4 linked regions of the Homo sapiens genome follow. The protein of the gene in region 4 purifies or fractionates together with the protein of the main gene of each other region. This does not show direct contact. Each region holds a gene or a part of one and is shown on either strand. Other genes may lie near its edges.

Region 1 (4,441 bases), on a different chromosome or scaffold from region 4:
ATGATGACATCATCATCCGAGTGGGAACTTGCTGAGAGTTCAAAGCTTGAGGGAAAGGATGCATTGTAAGAACTACGATTTGCTTCCAGTGAAACCATTTGGTCGAAGTCCACATCTTCCAAAACAAAAGCAGCTGGCACAATAATACTTGCCACTAAAGTGAATAAGCAACAATGTAGCTTCATGGGAAAATGGGACAAAATCTTGTTTAGATTTGGAGAACTCAAAAACTTCTACACTACAACAAAAGCACAGCGGGTAATTTATTGCTTGGTAGAGAAATTTTCCAAACAAGTGGTAGATCCAGTTATATTTTCTAGTCTTCAAGATTAAAAGATGTGAGTAGAGAACCTAAAAGAAAGCCAGATACAAAGTTTAACCAACTGAGATTCATAATGGGGTGAAAGTGCGTATGTTCCAGAATGAATAGATGTTAATTAGAATAATTGGTGCTGACATTGGGGAGTAATTAGATGGAACAGTACCTAAAAATCTCACACAGAGACAGCAGAAAAAGCAATGAATTGGTAAATAGCAGACCTAGATTTTGGTCCTAGCTTTGCCACTAACTAGCTGTACGACCTTGGCAAGCAGCATTCTCTCTGGGTTTCTGTTTTCTCCTCTGTCAAATAAGGGACTGGATGAGATAATCTCTAAGGACTCTTCCAATTCTGAAATGCCATGATTCTATTTCATTCTGACAAATTTTATGCAACAGGGAGCCAATGAAGGCTAAAATATTTATCTTAATGATCTTTTATTTCAACCTGCACCATTACCATCTGTTGTTATAATGTAAATCAACTGGCATATCATAATCATAACCATGGAGCTCAAAATTTGAGTAATTCAAGTATGAAGATATGTTACATATAAATAATGCAGGGACACCTGAGGTGGGTTGTTTTAACACTGGAAAGAAAGCTGCACTTACTGCATACACATAAATAGAGTTATTGACTTCTAAAGCTATGGAACCTCCTTCATGGGCAAGAACATTAGACAACAGAATTTTCTTTTAATAGTTTCTCCAATACGAAGAGACAAAGTACAGTGTATTTAATAGTTTGTAAGCATACCAAATTTCTAGCTCAAACTCTGTAAACTAGCTAAGGGAGGAACTGACATCTTAAGTGTCTAGTTAGTAGAAATGCAAATATAAAACTACAGGGACAGATTGTTAGACACATTTAAAAGAAGAGCAAAATATCTTGAATAAAAGGCAAAATAACATCCTAGTCCAAAAGTCTATGTATTTATGATCACCTTCCTGGTAATTTGACTCCCCCTTTAAGCCACCAACTCTCAAAGAAAAAATTCAACTTTTATTTCTATAAAATATGGGATGAAATGCCTAGCTTTATGTCTTATAAAGCACCAAGATAATTAGTTTTGGAAATGACATTTACTCTCCTTTATATTTATATGAAGGCTGCTTGATCACAGAACATAAAAAACAATGAATCACTGTATTTTGCCATTAAATATCTCAAAGTCTAAATTACAATACGGTGCAAATGTCATTTAATTTTCATTAATTAACCCTTGAAAGGATGGTTGAATGGTGACAAATACTTTTCTAAATCTTTACAATTTAAGGATGGGGTATACAGAGTAAAATAAAAAACCTTCAGACTTTGGCAATACATGACACACTAAACGTGTTTATTTCCATTTCCTCCTAAAACCGCACAAAAAGGACACTAAAGGAAACAAAGACTTAGGCAGAGAGGGGATTTTGGAAGTAATATAATCTAATTGATTCAGTGCACAGTGATTTGCTTCTTACGACATGCTACAAGTTAGTAGGAGAATCTAGTTTGGAATACAGTCTCTTTTTTAAGAGGGGGTGATGGGTAGAAACAATGGAAATAACATTTATTGAATGACTGCCATCAGCCAAGCACTGTGCTAGGGGCTTGACATGTAAGTTTCCAAGCTCTTTTTCACTGCAAGATATACAGCAATTGGAGGACATAATTTTGTACTTTATTCTAGATTAGTGGTTCTCAACGGTGACAGGCTATGAGTGTGCTGAAAAAATGCTCCAGGCTTTCTCCAGAACTTTGATTAGGAGTTCCTATAGCTTCATCCAGGGCAGCACTTCCCAAACTTCATTCATTCCTTCTCCTGTCTTTTTTGTTGTTGTTGTTTTTACTATATCCATGAACCAAATTATCGTCATTTCTGCTTTTCTTTTAAATCAACTCATTTTATTTTTACTTTCACATTTATTTAAAAAGGAAACTCTACATCAGTTCTGTGGACAAATGTAACCGTACACATAAACATAATGAAAACAAAGAAGTGTTATTAGCTTCCAGAGATACTACTGCCTGCTGAAAGGCTTTGAGCTGGAGGCTTGCTCTCTCTGTAGTAAAACCAAAACCAAAACAAAAAGCCCCCCACAACTCCAGTTTATTTTAATGCCACCTCATTTCTTAACCTGCCATCTCCTTCCTTTCTACTCTTCCCCACCACTGAGTTTGAGATCGGAGGGATACATTTTCATATACTGAACAGTATCTATTGAGCACCTACCATGTGCCTACCTACTGCCCCATAGACATTGTCTCGGCCTCCACGAAGTTCAGTCTGGCAGATGATGGACACTAACTACATATATACAAAATAAACTCAATGTTACCCAAGGGAAAATACAGATGCTACAGGAGGACCCAACATGGGGAGTTAATCTCATCATGGAAAGCCTCTGAGAAAAAGAGGTGTGCAGCACCTATTCTTCAGGTGCAGGACCTGAAGAATAAAGAGGAATAAAAATTGGGAGGAAAGCACTCAAGGTAGAGGGCCAGGAGACAGGGAAAAATGAGAGGGGTCACTGGTCAGGAGTTGTTCACAAAAAACAGCTAAAAAATTGTGGTAAAGACAGGCAGTGGCCAAAAATGCTGCGTCTGATTCCTGATTCTGGAGGAGAACTAACTGGGCCAATGGTGAAACTGGAGATAGACTCCGGAAGCTGCAGTGGCTGAAGTGAGTGAGGGAGATATTCGTCCATGATGAAGACGTCAAACAACTGAGAGGCTCAAACGTGGGCAGATCACCTGGGGGTATGGTCACATCCCCCCAGGATCAAAGTAGCTAGTGTAGAAGAAACTGGAAAGAAAGGAAATGGATTCGGTCTTCCTGCTCTGAGATTCAGGAACTTCAGCAGAATGAACAGCTGTCACAGGCGAGGGCTGCAGGGCAATGAGTGTCCTCACCAACACAAGGCTTGGCAAAGCATAACTCCCACATGGAATTCTGCCTTCCCGCAAACTTCCTGAACCTCCTATCAAGGCCTTAGCTATTCCTCCTACATAAATTCAGAGTATAGCTGTATAAAGGATGGCTTCTCCTTCACCCCAGAGCCCTCCCCACCTACCGTACTCATCTGGCGCTGGTATATGCTGCTCTGTACTGCTAGGCAGTCTATCCCATCTCAACTACCCCTTAAGAACAAGGCCTATATTTTTTATTGCTGTACGTCATAACTAGCACATGCTCAATAAATATTGATGGAGATTAGTTTAAATTTGATTCAGTATGTGACAGATCTTTATAAATTGAATAATGTTATGCAACAGGGATTATAATTGTTCAAACTGACATACAGTTGCCTATTATAAATTCTCTGAAACAAAAACAGTCAATGCTAACAATCTTGGAAGACCTTAAAAGTACCTAATTAAATGCATTCTTCCGACTCCCAACCTGATACCTTCATTTACCATGTTGTCCTAGAGGATAATGGTAGGAATAAAAGATCACCAAGTGCAGTTTCCAAACCAGGTTGAATATCACAACTGTCAGGAGAGCTTTTTAAAAATATGGATTCCCAGGTCCCAACCCAGAACGAGTAAGAAACTCTGTGTTTGCGCCTTGGAATTTATGACTTTTAATTGGCTCCCTGGGTGTTTCTGAGGCATTGGATTCATGTACTGCATCTAAGGGCCACTAATACAGTTCCTCAATTTCCTCTGCAACTGACCTGCAGAATGGTGCTTCAGGCTATTTGAATATTTCCAATGAGAGATATAATCACTCACATTCCATTCTAGATTTAGATTACTCTAGATCAGCAAAATTGAAGGTCTCTAATAAGAGCAGGGTAGCAGAGAGGTTCAGAGTATAGGATTCAAATACGATCTGTGACTCTAACCAGCCTTGCAACTTTTATAAATGACTTAATCTCCCTGCCTCAGCCCCTCATCTTTAAAATGGGCAAAATAACAGAATCTATTCTCACAGGATTATTGCAAAGTCTGAATGAGGTAGTATACATAAAACACAGAGTCTGGCAATGGTAATCACTGAATAAGCTCTATTATTATTGTTCATGGTTCTTTCAGATATTGAACTAAAATTTACATTTGATAGTTACATCATTATAAAACACTCAGAATACCATGCAACCATTTAAAAATCTTGGGGGTTGGGGGGA
Region 2 (4,441 bases), on a different chromosome or scaffold from region 4:
AAACAAAGAGGGCAGAAGTGACTTTTCAGGCAGAACTAGATCTTGGCAAGACCCAATCTGCTGAATGATCTACCAGGTTGTCTAAAGTACAGCTTTCAAGCTCATCTGGCAAAAGGGCCTTTCTTTCTAAAGACATAAATGGAACCCCAACATACACAACAGAAAAATGAACACAGCTCTGATGGAGGGAATGCCAGGCAAATGGTGGCCTCTTTCCTCCTATAGGCAGCTTAAAGCAACTCTCAGGTTCCAATAAACAGTTTACAAACCAAACTACAAAATCATTCTATATGAAAAACTTTTAAGTTTTTCATCTTACATCTTACATCCCACAATTCACTACCAAAGAACTGAATCTCATCTTGATGGACAAAAGCCTTCTCTGTGAAGAGTATCTGTTTATATTTATCATCTACAAAAATAAACATTCTTTGTAATTCCTCTGAAGAATAAAACTGTACTGTCTTATTATGTCAATAACTGCTATTACCTCATCCTATTTGTATTATTTGGGGTCCTGTAAATGCTAGGAGTACCACTACCACAAGCACAGGCCTGTGACAAGGATAAATGGTTTAAAAATAGGGTTAGCAACACTAAGATCAATGTCAACTGACCTTACGTCATTGCCACCATGGGCGAATGACCCAAAGCAGGCTGTAAGGATCTGCAGGAACTGGAAGAGGAGAGAGACTTCAGGCTTATCCTGGTCATACCATTCTTCTAGAGAGCCATTACTTCCTTTTCTGTCACCTAGACCCATCTCTGCCTTGACACTCATGTCTATCTCAGATGCTGAGTGAAGGTCAGACACAGCATTGCAGTAACTGGTGTAACTGTCCATTCGAATTCGCTTCTTGGAGTCTGCATTAGGCCATGTCAGCTTCTCCATTTCTTCGCCCTTCTGTTCACCTTCTTTGGCACGGAATGAATCCAGAGGCATGCCACATATTGCCATGGTATAGGAAGTATAGCTATTATTGCGCCTTAAGGGTTTGTCACCGGAGTCTCCCATGCAATCTCCCACCTTGGCAAGATGTAATTTATGGAGTAGCTCTTTGTACAGGCCGGAATCCTTATGCACGGTGTGATACTGGTAGTGGCCACTGGAGTTTATTTGGTTGCTGACGGCTTGACTGAACTGGACAAGGTTCCCATTAGGCAACTGCACTGCACCTAGTCAAGATCACCAAGGTGACATTCAATACAAAAAGCATCAAATCCAAAACAATAAGCCTCCTCACCACTGCAGGTAACAAAAGTGAAACCAGGAATTCCAACTCACCATTCACGGTGCTATCTATGCTGGTTTCCTCTTTCAAGTCCACGCTGGGAAGCCTCTCTCTCTCTGGAGCTTCCTCCAAATCTCCAAGTTTGAATGAGACTGTTCTCTCCTCCACCACAGCCTGGAGGGGCACAGTGGCAGGCCCTACCTCAGAAACAGGATGCTTGTTTTCAATATCACCAACAGACAACTTTGTTTCTTCATGGTCTTCTTTCAAGCTATTCTTTTTTTCCATTAAGGGGCTTTCAGAAGGACTACACTTTATTTCTCCTAGGAAAAAAAAGGGGGGTCTTTTTTGGTTTGGTTGTGGCCATACTACTTTGTTCCACGTCTCCTTTCCTCCACCCCCAAAAAACTCATCTCAAAACAAGAATGTATGTGAACTTCAATTAACATTCAGGAACATTTTTCCTGCCTGCTTTATCATTTGCCAGCAACTCTCACTTGGGAACAACCAGCAATGCAGAACACCCTATGTCAGGGGTCCCAAAATTTTTCTGTAAATATTTTAGGTTTTACGGGCTTCTGTAGCACATTGTTGTTTTGTTTTTATTTTTACAACCCTTTACAGATATAAGAACCCTTCTTAGCTCCCTGCTGACTCATTCTGTAGGGGAAAGTAGCTCAACCATGGGGCTGATAAGCTGAAACTAAAAATCTGAACTGTACCCAATTCTATTCTTTTCAAAAGAGGATTCTCTCAAATTTCAGTCCACCAATTCAAGCAAAGTGGCACAGCTCAATGCAGGGAACTAAAGACGACAACTTTAATTTCCACCTCTATAAAACAAAGAGATGTGCATCATGGCTGTAAATCCCACAGGCAGACCAGAGTATCTTCTGCCTCTCTCATGCCAGTGCTCAGTATGCTGACCTATCCATCCAGGCACCTCAGTCAAACTACAGACTGACTAACATAAAGCAAGACTTGTCTCAACTCCTCCCAGAGAGGGAAAATGAGGCCAGAGAGTCCTGAAAGCCTGGTTCCCACCGTGCACTCGGCACAGCCAGACTAGCACAGAACCTCTCGGAGGCTCTTCGGTTCAGCTGCGGTGACGCAGCGTTCTTCCTAACACCACTGCAGTCTATGCATCCCTCAGCTTCGAAACGATAAACTTCAACTTGCTAACCCAGCCTTCACATCGATGAAAAGGGCAGAAAATGATTATTTTAAGGAAAAAAAAGTCCGATACTAACCAAAATTTACTCAGTATTTAATTACATGAGTGTGTGGTAATGGCCTAAATGATTCCTTGACACTTGAAAATGTTTACTTCTAGAATCTGTGCTACAATTCTAGCAGACACACAATGTGTGTTTGTATATGTATTTGCATTGTATACTGCAATACAATGTCTACATGTATTCTAGCCTATATACAACATGTACACATTAGACTTAGCTTTGCTTGTCTGAATCTGAAGTTATACACAGAAGCAGTTGGGGTAAATATTTCCTCTACGAAAATATCTTGTATCTACCCCTTATTTTTCATTAAGGTATCCTTCTACTTCTCAGTAAATGTAGGCTATGATTTCTCTATTTATCTATCATGTCACTGGCAACTGATCAAGGAACATAAAAAAATTCAATGCCCCAGATTGTCTCTACAGCATAGGTTGAATACTCTTTATCACTAGGTCTTAGGTCATGTAAGTCCATTTTTAAGAACAGGTCTTAGGTCATGTAAGTCCATTTCTAAAAACAGTTTGGACAACAAACCCATATCCTCAAATTTCCCTTTAAAATCTCTTATTTTGCCAATCTCTTCTAATAGATTTTTACAGGTGGCCAAATAAAAAATAAACACAACATTAGTAGTTAAACTTTTCTGCTGTTTAGTTATTACTTACGTTCAATTTTTCTCTTCATCCTGGGACATACAAAGAACCAGACGATAAGGGCACAGAAAACTGCACATCCCACCGAGATGAGGATGGTACCCCACAGAGGAAGTTTGTCAAAGCCCAGCACTAGGAGATAAAATGGTGCATCTTGAAAACCCCAGGGCAACAGCCCCCTGCAATATTGTGTAAACCCTCCTCTGGGGACTGAGGGGTTCCCCATACCAGCCCATCACCCCTGACAGCTGCTGCCAGATTTAAGTGCACAGGATTACTGTGCTAGTGCCTATACAAATTTGGGAGAAAAACTCAATGATCATCTGAAAACCCACACCAGCCTAGCCCACTTGAACACCTGCGGGACTCAAGTTCCTATGCTTCTCAACATACGAGCCTTTTCCTTTCTTCACCTTGGAAGATAATAAAGATCACTACACGCTAAGGACCTATGACTAGCTATGAAAAAGACAGCAAGTGTTCCACTCTCCTAGCTCATGATCGTAACTGCCACATATTCCATTACCACCTACAAACTTATTTTAATGTTAACAGAATGATGTCTCAGTAGTCACATTTGTCATGCTGACACAATTCTGTGTAAAAGTGATTACATTCACTATACTGGCCTTTAGTAAAATGCTTTAATGAGATTATCTCCTTGAAAGCAGTATCAAAGCAAGATACAGAAAACAAGGATATTATCTATCAAAAGTTGATAATTTAAGAATAGTTGTAAAAGCTTTGTCTTTCAGCCAGGCACGGTGGCTCATGCCTGTAATCCCAGCACTTTGGGAGGCCGTGGCAGGCAGATCACTTGAGGTCAGGAGTTCGAGACCAGCCTGCCCAACATGGCAAAACCCCATCTCTACTAAAAATACAAAAAAAAATTAGCCGGGCATGGTGGTGGGCGCCTGTAGTCCCAGCTACTCGGGAGGCTGAGGTGGGAGAATCACTTGAACCTGGCAGGGCGGAGGTTGCAGTGAGCTGAGATTGCGCCACTGCACTCCAGCCTGGGTGACAAAGTCAGACTTTGTCTCAAAAAAAAAAAAAAAAAAAAAAAAAGTTTTGTCTTTCTCACACACAAAGTTTAGTGGTAATTTCACTTACAAGTCTTACCTTAAAAAAAGACTTGCCTAGCAACACTGTTCACATGGTTTAAGAATGAGTAATATTAGTCATTATCTGACTGTCATATGCACGCCAGTAGGCTCCAAACCATTAGCCTGTACTAAAGACAGAAGTAAAGCACTGGCCAGGCACAGTGGCTCACACCTGTAATCCCAGCACTTTGGGAGGCTGAGACAGGTGGAGC
Region 3 (4,441 bases), on a different chromosome or scaffold from region 4:
CAGGGCAGGCTTGGCCCCTGGGATGAGAAGAGAGGCCTGCTTGTCTCCTGAAAACCGTTCATGATGTAAGGAAACACAGTGATGCAAGCAGCACAGAGCAGTGCTGTGGAAGGAGCGGTGGACAGGCAGCTCGGGACAGGCCATCCACGTGAAAACACCTCCGCTCACTCAGCCATCTCCTGAGTGCCTGCGCCTCCCCCTCACTGGCTATTTTCAAAAGGGACAGGATGCTGGCTCTTACCAAAGTCTGTGTGACTGCTCATCCATCCGATGGCTTTGATAGACACCAGTGCCAGCAGTCCAGAACCCACGAACGACCCGACGCCAGAGAAGAAAAAGAACAAGCCCATTATGGCACTCTGCATGGACTTGGGGGCAGCTGAGTATGCAAATTCCAGGCCTGAGGAAAGAAAAGGGAGGGTCGTTTTTGTGAAAGGGGCACTTTAACACATGGGATCAAAGCTTTCACCTAATATAGCAGAGGAAGCGTGGGGTCTCCTAGGGACTGAGTCCTGCAGACAGGCACAACCTCTTTTCTATTAGGAGGACGATGCTTACTAGCGACCAAGAATCAATGGCTATGGGCCAACTGTTCATTCTCCTAGCCATTAGGATAATTCCTAATAAATTCAATGAGCAGAAAGTTAAACTCCTTGCTCTCAAGCTTAAAGGTAATGTGATTTGTTGGCTCTTAGACTTTTGTGTTCCTTAAAGAGATTAGAGAAAAAATTTTCCTATATTGTCAAGGAATGGGAGTTTGAAAACAAAGTACACACACTAAACTGGGAAATCTACATAAGGATTCTATTTCAGAGGCAATATACTTTATCTTTTTTTTGTTGAGACGGAGTTTTGCTCTTGTTGCCCAGGCTGGAGTGCAATGGCAGGATCTTGGCTCACCGCAACTTCCGCCTCCCTGGTTCAAGCGATTCTCCTGCCTCAGCCTCCCGAGTAGCTGGGATTACAGGTGCGTGCCACCATGCCTGGCTAATTTTTTGTATTTTTAGTAGAGACAGGGATTCACCATGTTGGCCAGGCTGGTCTCGAACTCCTGACCTCAGGTGATCCACCCGCCTCGGATTCCTAAAGTGCTGGGGTTACAGGTATGAGCCACCGTGACAAGGGCAATAGACTTCAAAACTATTTTGGCAGGCCCATCTATAAATTTAGATTTTTATAACTAGACACGGAGATTTGTAGTGTATTCTAAATAGAAGTCCATTCCGTTGTGATTTATTCCCTTTACAAATTCATTAGCCAATTCTGGATGAGTTTTCTACAGTGAAAACCACCACTGACTACTACCCACACATCCATCCACCTCTGCATATCACTCATCTTCTCTTCTCTCTCACTCTCAGCAGCCGGACAGATCTGCCCAGAATACACTTGTTCAACCACTGCAGGATCTCACTAATAGGAAAAGGGAGGCCTGTGAGAACACGTTTCTAAAAATTAGATCTGCTTCTTTACGTACATCTAAACGAAGCGCACTGAGAGCTGTGAGCTCAGCCCAGCCACCACGGCAGCATGGCCGAGGGCTCCGCTGGGAACTATCCAACCACGATTGCTTTCTTCTTCTCTGTCCTGTGGCACTTACAAGGTAGTTAACAAACTTTCATGAAAATATTTTGCGATACTGTTTTTACACAAAGAATGGAGAACCTCAGCACTGGTGTGTTTACCTAGCGATTCATATTCTAAACCACACACTGCCAAAAACTACAGAAGTGCTGTGCTATCCTTGTCTCAACATATTCCAACAGCACAGTCAGAATGCCCGAGCGCTCACGCTTGTGCCTGGACTCAGACACCTCCGGCACTAAAGGTCCTCACCTGCGATACTTGCAAAGATCTCGCTGATCCCAATCAGCAAGTACTGCGGCACCTGCCACCACAGCGACAGATCGGCAGCATGGTAGACGACGTTGCCGATGGTCTGATTAATGGTTTTCTCTTTAACAAGGTTCAGCCTTTTACTCTCCAAAATTCCTAGAATTCAAAAGTAGGTTAGTGTAATATTCATTTATTAACATTTACAGTTAATCTAAAAATCTGATGTTGGCTACGAGACTTCGTAGCAAACGTGATTCTGATGCGTGAAAGGACCACGTCTAATCACAGCTTCCCCCAGGACTAATAGGCCCCCAGCCTTCAGCCTCCTAAGCAGGCTGAGTGGAGGTCATGGCATAGCACACCTATTTCACTTCGGCTTTTTACAGCATCTTATATAAAATCAGATGTTCAACATGTTTCATTTAATCCTCAAATATCTGGATTGCTCACCCATACCTCGTTTGTCTCTTACAAAGGGGAGTAGGAGAAAGTTAAAAAGTCCTACTGTAGAATTAACAGTAGTGCTATTTTACCCAACAGCAGGTAATACTGAGATGTTCTTCCAATCATAGTGATGGATCGAAGGTGATCTACTGATTTATTATTATAACAACAAATGATGATAATAATGATGATGATGATGTTGGTTTCCCTGCATAGGGTAGGCTTAATCTTTGCAACAAAGTAAGCTGACTTCACAAATCAACCTGTGCTCTCAGCAGCATTGAGATCTCACTGCAGGTGCAGGCTAAGTTACTGGTCACCTATCAAGTGTAACAGAAAGACATGAGAAAAACAAGCAAGGGCAGCAGCTCCTACTCTATAAACAAAAATCAGCCACTGGAAATAAAGTGTAAAAGCATCTATTCGCAGGTCCAAGTCCTTAGGTTAAAGATACCACCAAGTTTTATTTTATAAAGAATTCTTATTGCAAATTAGGTCACAGGCCCTAATATTTAAAGCGTATGTAAAATATGTTTATTTTAAAACATGAGTATGAAGAAAGGTCTGGTCAGAGGGCAATGGAATGAAAATATTAAAAATGTTCCTTCTAAAACCTGAGCATGAGAAAGGACCAGGATATGATCCATAGGGCGATGAGAACACAAACTCTGGAATTTCCACCTCAAATCTCAACTGAAATGCCAAGCAAAGTGAAAACATTCTCCAGGATCAAAGTAGAGAGAGACCTTCGAGCCAACCCACAGCTTACTTCCATCAGAAAACCTGCAGCCCCACCCTGGAAGAGTGTCAAGGGAAACCCAATCCTTCCACTCCGCCCTCCACGGGAGAAACATAAACGCAGACCCAGGCAAGGACAGCAAACTATTTAGAGCCCTTAGTTGTTCTGGAAAGGGCATCTGAGGGCATCTTAATCAGGCAAGGCTGGTAGTGACAATAGGGACTGTCCCCAAATGACAGCCTTCCTCCCGACAGGGCAGCTGACAGCAACCATAGCACTGCACCCCTAGCCCTGGCATCAGCGCCTTCAAACACGAAGAATGAACTGTGTGACAATGGCTTCCCCTAGACACCCAAGGTCCTCAGCTCCCACCTGCTCCCCTGGGACCATAGCTGACTACACTGGTCCCCACTCCTTGAATGGGAACAGAACCTATGCAACTCAAGCAGAAATTCAGGTCTATTTTGGAAATAAACACGAAAGCTGAATACCACTTTTCTCCTTCACAGGAGAGGAGGAGAGCCTAAGGATGACACCAAAGTGTCTGCAGGGGGCGGGACAAGGGAAGGTTACTCATGCGGAGGACAATAAGTAGATTTTATAACCTGAATGGGAAAGATACTACTATTGCTACTGGCATAGTTCTACCAGAGAACTTGTCTTATTATTCAAGAAAACACAGACTCTGAAGACTAAGGATGAAAAAGGTAACAAAGAAATTAAGGGGACGTTGGCTTAAGAGAGACACAAATGATGAGATCAAGAATTAGGAGAAGAGAAAATGAGAAAATAAATAGGCCTGATTATTGGTGAGGCTGTTGGCAGAGAGATGAGCAGCGGCAAAGGCGCACACACAGCCAACACTGCGGAAACCAGGATCGGGACGGGTGCCCCCAGTCACGAGCGAGGCGGAGAGGCAAAGCCAATGGGGAAAATGACCCTGCCTGTGAACAACTGAGAGCCCTGGAGAGGCTGGGACAGGCCGAAAAGCAGCAGGGTTCAGGCTGAGTGACAGTGACATGGCAAGCGGGCACCCAGTAAAAACAAGCATGGGATGCGACGCTGGATAATCAACACAGCAGTCAGGATAAATGAGCCAAATCCTTCAGATAAAAGTCATCCACTTGTATCAGTTCAAAAAATAAACAAAACTGAGTATTACGGTTAATACACAGAACTAAAGCATAATATAACCCAAAGATTGTAAATAAAGGAGAGGACAGGCCAGGATGTATCAGACAAACAATCATAAAGGGAAGAGGTGTCAACAAAAATACCAAGAAGAGAGAAAAAGAATCAAAAACCAAAATAACCAATAGGTGCCATGTATGAATTGTTCCTTGTGTGATGAGCCGCTTTTGTTGATGGATTCACAGACAGCACCTCATTTATTATTCACAGTAAGCTGGGGGGAGAAATAAC
Region 4 (5,384 bases):
CCTTTGTGCATCGACTTGGAATCCTACTTTTTGGAAGCTGCCCTACGAACTTTGAAATATGTTCAATGTAATAACAATTTCAGAGTAAATTTAAAACTCCTGCTGTTACAAGCAAGGGCTCACTGACTTCTGTTAGGAGCATACGATGGAGACTGTGCAGCCTTATTCACTCATCAATGAACCCTGTGACCCCCACTCTATGCCTGTGGAGCTCCAGGCTCGGGGGACACAGCAAGGACAGGACAGGGAGTAAGAAGCAGATGTCCTGCAGACTGGCACGGTCACCACCTCAGTGCAGCTGCTCCATCCCCTGCAGTCCCCTGGCTCCTTCAGGTTCCATTTCCCCTGGGCCAGGAGAGCTAAGGCACTGCCCTCTCCCACTGTCTACGAAATCCCAGGTGAGCAGCATGCCAGGAAACAAAATGATCTGTCCCCCACTCACCAGCAGATGCTCTGACTCCCCGGGGGACAACATGTTGACACCTGTTGGCTCTGCTGGCTCCTGGACTTCCATTTCCTGCTCAGGGACCTGGGTGGGCTGCAAGATACTCACGATCTCATTGAGGACATTGTCCTCAGCCCCAGGTCGTTGTGAGCTCTGGAAAAAGACATTGGGAAGGCAAAAAGCCGACTCAGGAGTCCACACCTAGGGCTCGCTGCAGGGTCCTCAGTATGCAGCTGCACCTGACATCCCCACCCCCTCTCAGTGAGGTCACCGCAGGCAGCCCAGACTCAGCACATCCAGGACCCGCTGCTGGGGCCAGGCCCCCAGTGCTGTGCTCAGGCAGACACCCCATCCCTAGGGTGCAGGCTGTGGGGTGAGGATGTCACCTGGGCTGCAGCAGGGCTCACCAGCCTATGTGGTGCTCAAAATGGCCATGTGTCCCCCACAGTCAGCCCAGAGCACCCAGGCCACTTCAGAGAGTCAGGGCAGCCATGAGGACAATGGGGACCCACCCACCCAGGTTCTGCTGTCCCAGGAAGCAGTTCCTGAACCCCTGAGCCCCCAGCTCCTGGAGAAATCAACTCACTCTGTCCACACGCTCAGGGTCCCCACCACCACCTAAAAAAGAAGCAGTCTCCTTAGCAGGAAGGGAGGGGCCCATGAAGCACCCCCCTCCCAGAGGACAGTGGGGCGCAGGGCTGGGCTGGGGGCTGGGACACTGGACAAGGAGCCCTGGGGCTGGGGACAGAATGGGGCCTTACAACTCAGAGACACCCTGAGGAAGGGGGATGAGAAGGGGAACTAGAGTAAAAACAAACACTTGGAAAATCTCTGGTTCTGCTCTGACCAAGGCTGAAAAAATCCCACGACCACTTCTCATCCTCACCCTTGTCACCCAGTTGAGGAGCCGACTGCCCCCTGCCTGGCTGGGCCTGAAGATGGGAGGAACTGGCCCTGCCCTCCTGGACTTGGCTGGGAGATATGGGGACCCCCAGACCTGGGAGAGGGACTGAAGAGACCAGGGTCCTGGGGGGTGCACGGGATGTGGGGATGGGGGTGACCACGAGGAGGAGGATAGAGCCAGGCTGGAGGCACTTAGACTTGGGGCAGGGGCAGGCGTTTCTGTCTGTGGGAATAGGGTGGGAGGGGGCAGGGCAGAGAGTGCCCTGTGCCCCCGCCCTCAGCCAGCACCTACCTGAGCAGATGCCTTTCAGGTAAGGAAGGACTTTCTTCCACAGTAAAGACTTGCAAACAAACACAGCCACAATCAAGACTACGGCTGCAACTGTGACTCCTATGATGATGCCTGAGAGAGAACAGGGAGAGGCAGGAGTCCCTGGGCTGGAGGTCACCGTCTCCTCCACAGCTGGGACTTCCCCACTGTGCTTTGTACCTGATTCTTTGTGGACACATTCGATGTCACTCCAGGGTGTACAATCACCGACCTTGACCATCCCTCTGGGACACCTGGGTACACACACAGAGGGAGAGGGGGGACTCTTGATGGAAAGCTGGCCAGGTGGGATGAAAGAGGAGCCACCCTCCCTCCCCAGTGTCCCTGAGAAGGTGTCAGGGGAAGGACAGTCTCCTCGTGTCAGCAGTGGGTCCCCCTGTGCTCCCTTCTTGAGGCTGGGGAAGGGTCTGAGCATGCGCACTTCAGCCCCTCGGCCTCCCTGCTCTGGGGTCAGAGCTGCAGTTCCAGGAGCCTTCTGTGCTGGGCACACACTGAGCTTCCCTGGGCTGCAGGGGAGGCCTGCGTTAGGAGCAATCACACTCCAGGGGAAGGTCACAAGCCCGTGTGGCCACAAGATGAGTCCGGTCTTCCAGTCAACCACAAAAGTGAGCTCTTGTCCCCAGCTGTCTGCCCATTTCCCCCAATCACAGCAAATACTAGGGGGGCCAGAGAAGAGCAAATTACTCTTGGCCCCTAAAACCCAAATAGGGAAAAGACAGGTCTTACTGAGGGATCAGGGGCCAGGGGTGAGGCCGGCTGGGTGGGCTCAGGTCCTCATGGGAACTTGAAGGAGCTCCACCCATGGCCTTATTATGCCTTTTGTGGGCCATGGGCACTTTTGTCTTTATGGGCCCCTGCATGCATAAAAATATTAAAAAATACATTTTATTGCTGAATTGGTATAAAGATGAATATATGCCTGGCTGCATTCTACTCATTCTTCTTATTTCAAGAGAAATTAAATCATTTCATGGGCCCCTAAAATTATCATGGGCCCCAAGTCATGGCCTTCTGTGGTCAGTGAACAAGTCAGCCTGGTCAAGGGGACTCGTGCTGGGGAGGGGTGGAAAGAGGCTGCTGCAGGGGGCAGGGGTGGTGACACGCAGAGGGACCAGGAGGGGCAGCCACAGCCTCAAGGATGCCCCTTGCGGGTGCTGTCAGGGGAGAGACAGGGGTACAAGGAGACTTGGGTCTTTTGGGGTTCCATGGAGCTACTGGGAGCCCCCGGCTCCTGTCTCACCCTGTGCGGCACTTCCGGCACATCTCAGGAGAATCTTCTTCCCGGAAGGTGCCTTCTTCGCACTGACACACTGTGTTTCTGGTCGTGGTGCAGGGACTTAGCTCCACTTCACCTGACGACAGAGCATAAGGTTTTGGGAATGTGTTTTCCTGATGTGTCCCTTGACCCTTCCTCCCCACCCCAAGACCCTGCTACTCAGCTCAACTCAGTTTGCCAAGGAGTTCTGAGGGCCAGTTTCTGCACCAGCACACTCATGGCTCATTCAGGATACCCACCCTTCAGCTGTCACTAACACTCGTTGAGTCATACAAAAGGACCACAGTTCATTATTTATTACATTAGATTAGGGGAAAGCACCGTTTAGGGGACAAGCATCGTTTAGATTGCATGGCCAGTAGCAAGGGAAGTGCAAGGGATCACCTGAGAGACTGCAAGGAGAGGAGCCCTTGGGGGACTTCCCCAAGGCCCAGCCTGCTGGGGAGGAGGGAGAGGCCTGAGAACCTGAAGGGTGAGTGAGGCCGAGCACCTGCCAGGAGCACAGAGCCCAGGGGAGAGAGCCTGGCCCCAAAGCAGACCTGTGCCACTGCTGAGATCCAGCCCTGTCCACTTGGCCTGGCTCATGGCCCCACCCCCTTGCAGCTGACAGTTTAAAAGATTTCCTTACCATGTAGCATACATTATACAAATAATTTCTGTATTATTATTATTTTAATTAATTATTGAGACAGGGTTTTGCTCTGTTGCCTGGGCTGGAATGCAGTGGCACAATCTCGGCTCCCTGCAACCTCGGCCTCCTGGGCTCAAGAGATCCTTCTGCCTCAGCTTCCTAAGTAGCTGGAAATACAGGCACGCGCCACCATGCCCGGCTAATGTTTATATTTTTGTAGAGACGGGGTTTCTCATGTTGCCCAGGATGGTTTCAAACTCCTGGGCTCAAGTGATGCCTCCCAAAGTGTTGAGATTACAGGCATGAGCCACTGTGCCGGGCCTGTTTTATTTATTAAAAAGCTCAAAGACAAAATCATGGAACATGGTATGATGAAGACCAAGGTGGACCAGAATCTAGGTCTCCTGATCCCATTTTAGCTACAACTTTTATGTCATCACCCCGCATTCCACCTTTAGGCATGGGGTCCATATGTTCTGTACCTGAATCACACCTGGTGCAGCGCAAGCAGAAAAGGAGGTCATTCCAGTGAGTGCTATAGTCCTGTCCATATTTGCAGGAGATGCAATCTCTACCGTCTTCTGAGATATGGTGTCCTGGGAGGGGAGAGAAAAGCCGGTGAATGAAATGCCACAGGATTCCCAGAAGCTGGCAGTGGTGGCTGGGGGACTCCTCTTTCAGGGATGTGTGGAACCAAAAGAGGGAAATCTCCTCTACCTAGCTTGGTCAGTTCATCAATTCTGCATTTACACACCTTAAACCAGCACTGCCAAAAGAAATATAAGCCACACATTTATTTATTTTATTTTTTATTTTTGAGACGTAGTCTCACTCTGTCACCCAGGCTGGAGTGCAGTGGCGTGATCTCGGCTCACTGCAACCTCCGCCTCCTGGGTTCAAGAGATTCTCCTGGCTCAGCCTCCTGAGTAGCTGGGATTACAGGCACACACTACCACACCTGGCTAATTTTTGTATTTTTTTAGTAGAGACAGGGTTTCACCGTATTGGCCAGGCTAGTCTCGATCTCCTGACCTCATGATCTGCCTGCCTAGGCCTCCCAAAGTGCTGGGATTACAGGCGTGAGCCACTGCACCCGGCCTATTTATTTATTTATTTATTTATTTATTTATTTATTTAGACAGGGTCTTGCTCTATAGCCCAGGCTGGAGTGCAGTGGTGTGATCTCAGCTCACTGCACCCTCGACCTCCCGGACCCTCCCTCTCCCCCCGACCCACAAATAGCTGGGACTACAGGTGCACACCACCACACCGGGTTAATTTTTAGTGTACTTTTTTTTTGTAGAGACGAGGTTTCACCATGTTGCCTAGGCTGGTCTCAAACTCCTGGGCTCAAGTGATTCACTCTCCTTGGACTCCCAAGGTGCTAGGAATACAGGTGTCAGCCACTGTGCCCAGCCCACATATGAAATTTAAATCCACACTCAGCACATTAAAAAAGGTGAGAAGGGGTGAAATTAATGTTAATAATGCATTTTAATTTAATGTACCCCAGATAATATCACTTAAATATGTAATCCACATAAAACATTGAGATATTTTACAGCATTTTTTTCACAGTACGTCTTCAAATCCTGCGTATATTTTAACTCATGGCACATCTCAATTTGCAGTAGCATTTTTTTTTTTTTTTTTGAGACGGAGTCTTGCTCTGTTGCCCAGGCTAGAGTGCAGCGATCTCGGCTCACTGCAACCTCTGCCTCCTGGGTTCAAGTGATTCTCCTGCCTCAGCCTCCCGAGTAACTGGGATTACAGGCACCCACCACCGCACCCGGCTAAT

Evidence for each region.
Region 1: the proteins of TNFRSF10B (region 4) and MFAP3 purify together in Homo sapiens (affinity purification with mass spectrometry; 3 studies listed by BioGRID and IntAct, with this or other methods). This does not show direct contact.
Region 2: the proteins of TNFRSF10B (region 4) and SLC20A1 purify together in Homo sapiens (affinity purification with mass spectrometry; 2 studies listed by BioGRID and IntAct, with this or other methods). This does not show direct contact.
Region 3: the proteins of TNFRSF10B (region 4) and SLC15A4 purify together in Homo sapiens (affinity purification with mass spectrometry; 3 studies listed by BioGRID and IntAct, with this or other methods). This does not show direct contact.

Annotation. Positions count from the first base shown.
Region 1 is NC_000005.10:154,045,467-154,049,907, reverse strand, and holds part of MFAP3 (microfibril-associated glycoprotein 3 isoform 1 precursor), read right to left. Parts: intron 352-4,441; 5' UTR 186-351; coding exon 1-185. UniProt on the Homo sapiens protein: Component of the elastin-associated microfibrils.
Region 2 is NC_000002.12:112,655,939-112,660,379, reverse strand, and holds part of SLC20A1 (sodium-dependent phosphate transporter 1), read right to left. Parts: intron 3,259-4,441; coding exon 3,139-3,258; intron 1,556-3,138; coding exon 1,286-1,555; intron 1,177-1,285; coding exon 618-1,176; intron 1-617. UniProt on the Homo sapiens protein: Sodium-phosphate symporter which preferentially transports the monovalent form of phosphate with a stoichiometry of two sodium ions per phosphate ion. May play a role in extracellular matrix and cartilage calcification as well as in vascular calcification.
Region 3 is NC_000012.12:128,799,018-128,803,458, forward strand, and holds part of SLC15A4 (solute carrier family 15 member 4), read right to left. Parts: intron 1,993-4,441; coding exon 1,837-1,992; intron 401-1,836; coding exon 242-400; intron 48-241; exon of another isoform or gene 1-47. UniProt on the Homo sapiens protein: Proton-coupled amino-acid transporter that mediates the transmembrane transport of L-histidine and some di- and tripeptides from inside the lysosome to the cytosol, and plays a key role in innate immune response.
Region 4 is NC_000008.11:23,026,691-23,032,074, forward strand, and holds part of TNFRSF10B (tumor necrosis factor receptor superfamily member 10B isoform 1 precursor), read right to left. Parts: intron 4,183-5,384; coding exon 4,069-4,182; intron 3,032-4,068; coding exon 2,920-3,031; intron 1,913-2,919; coding exon 1,641-1,912; intron 1,064-1,640; coding exon 1,032-1,063; intron 599-1,031; coding exon 443-598; intron 1-442. UniProt on the Homo sapiens protein: Receptor for the cytotoxic ligand TNFSF10/TRAIL. The adapter molecule FADD recruits caspase-8 to the activated receptor.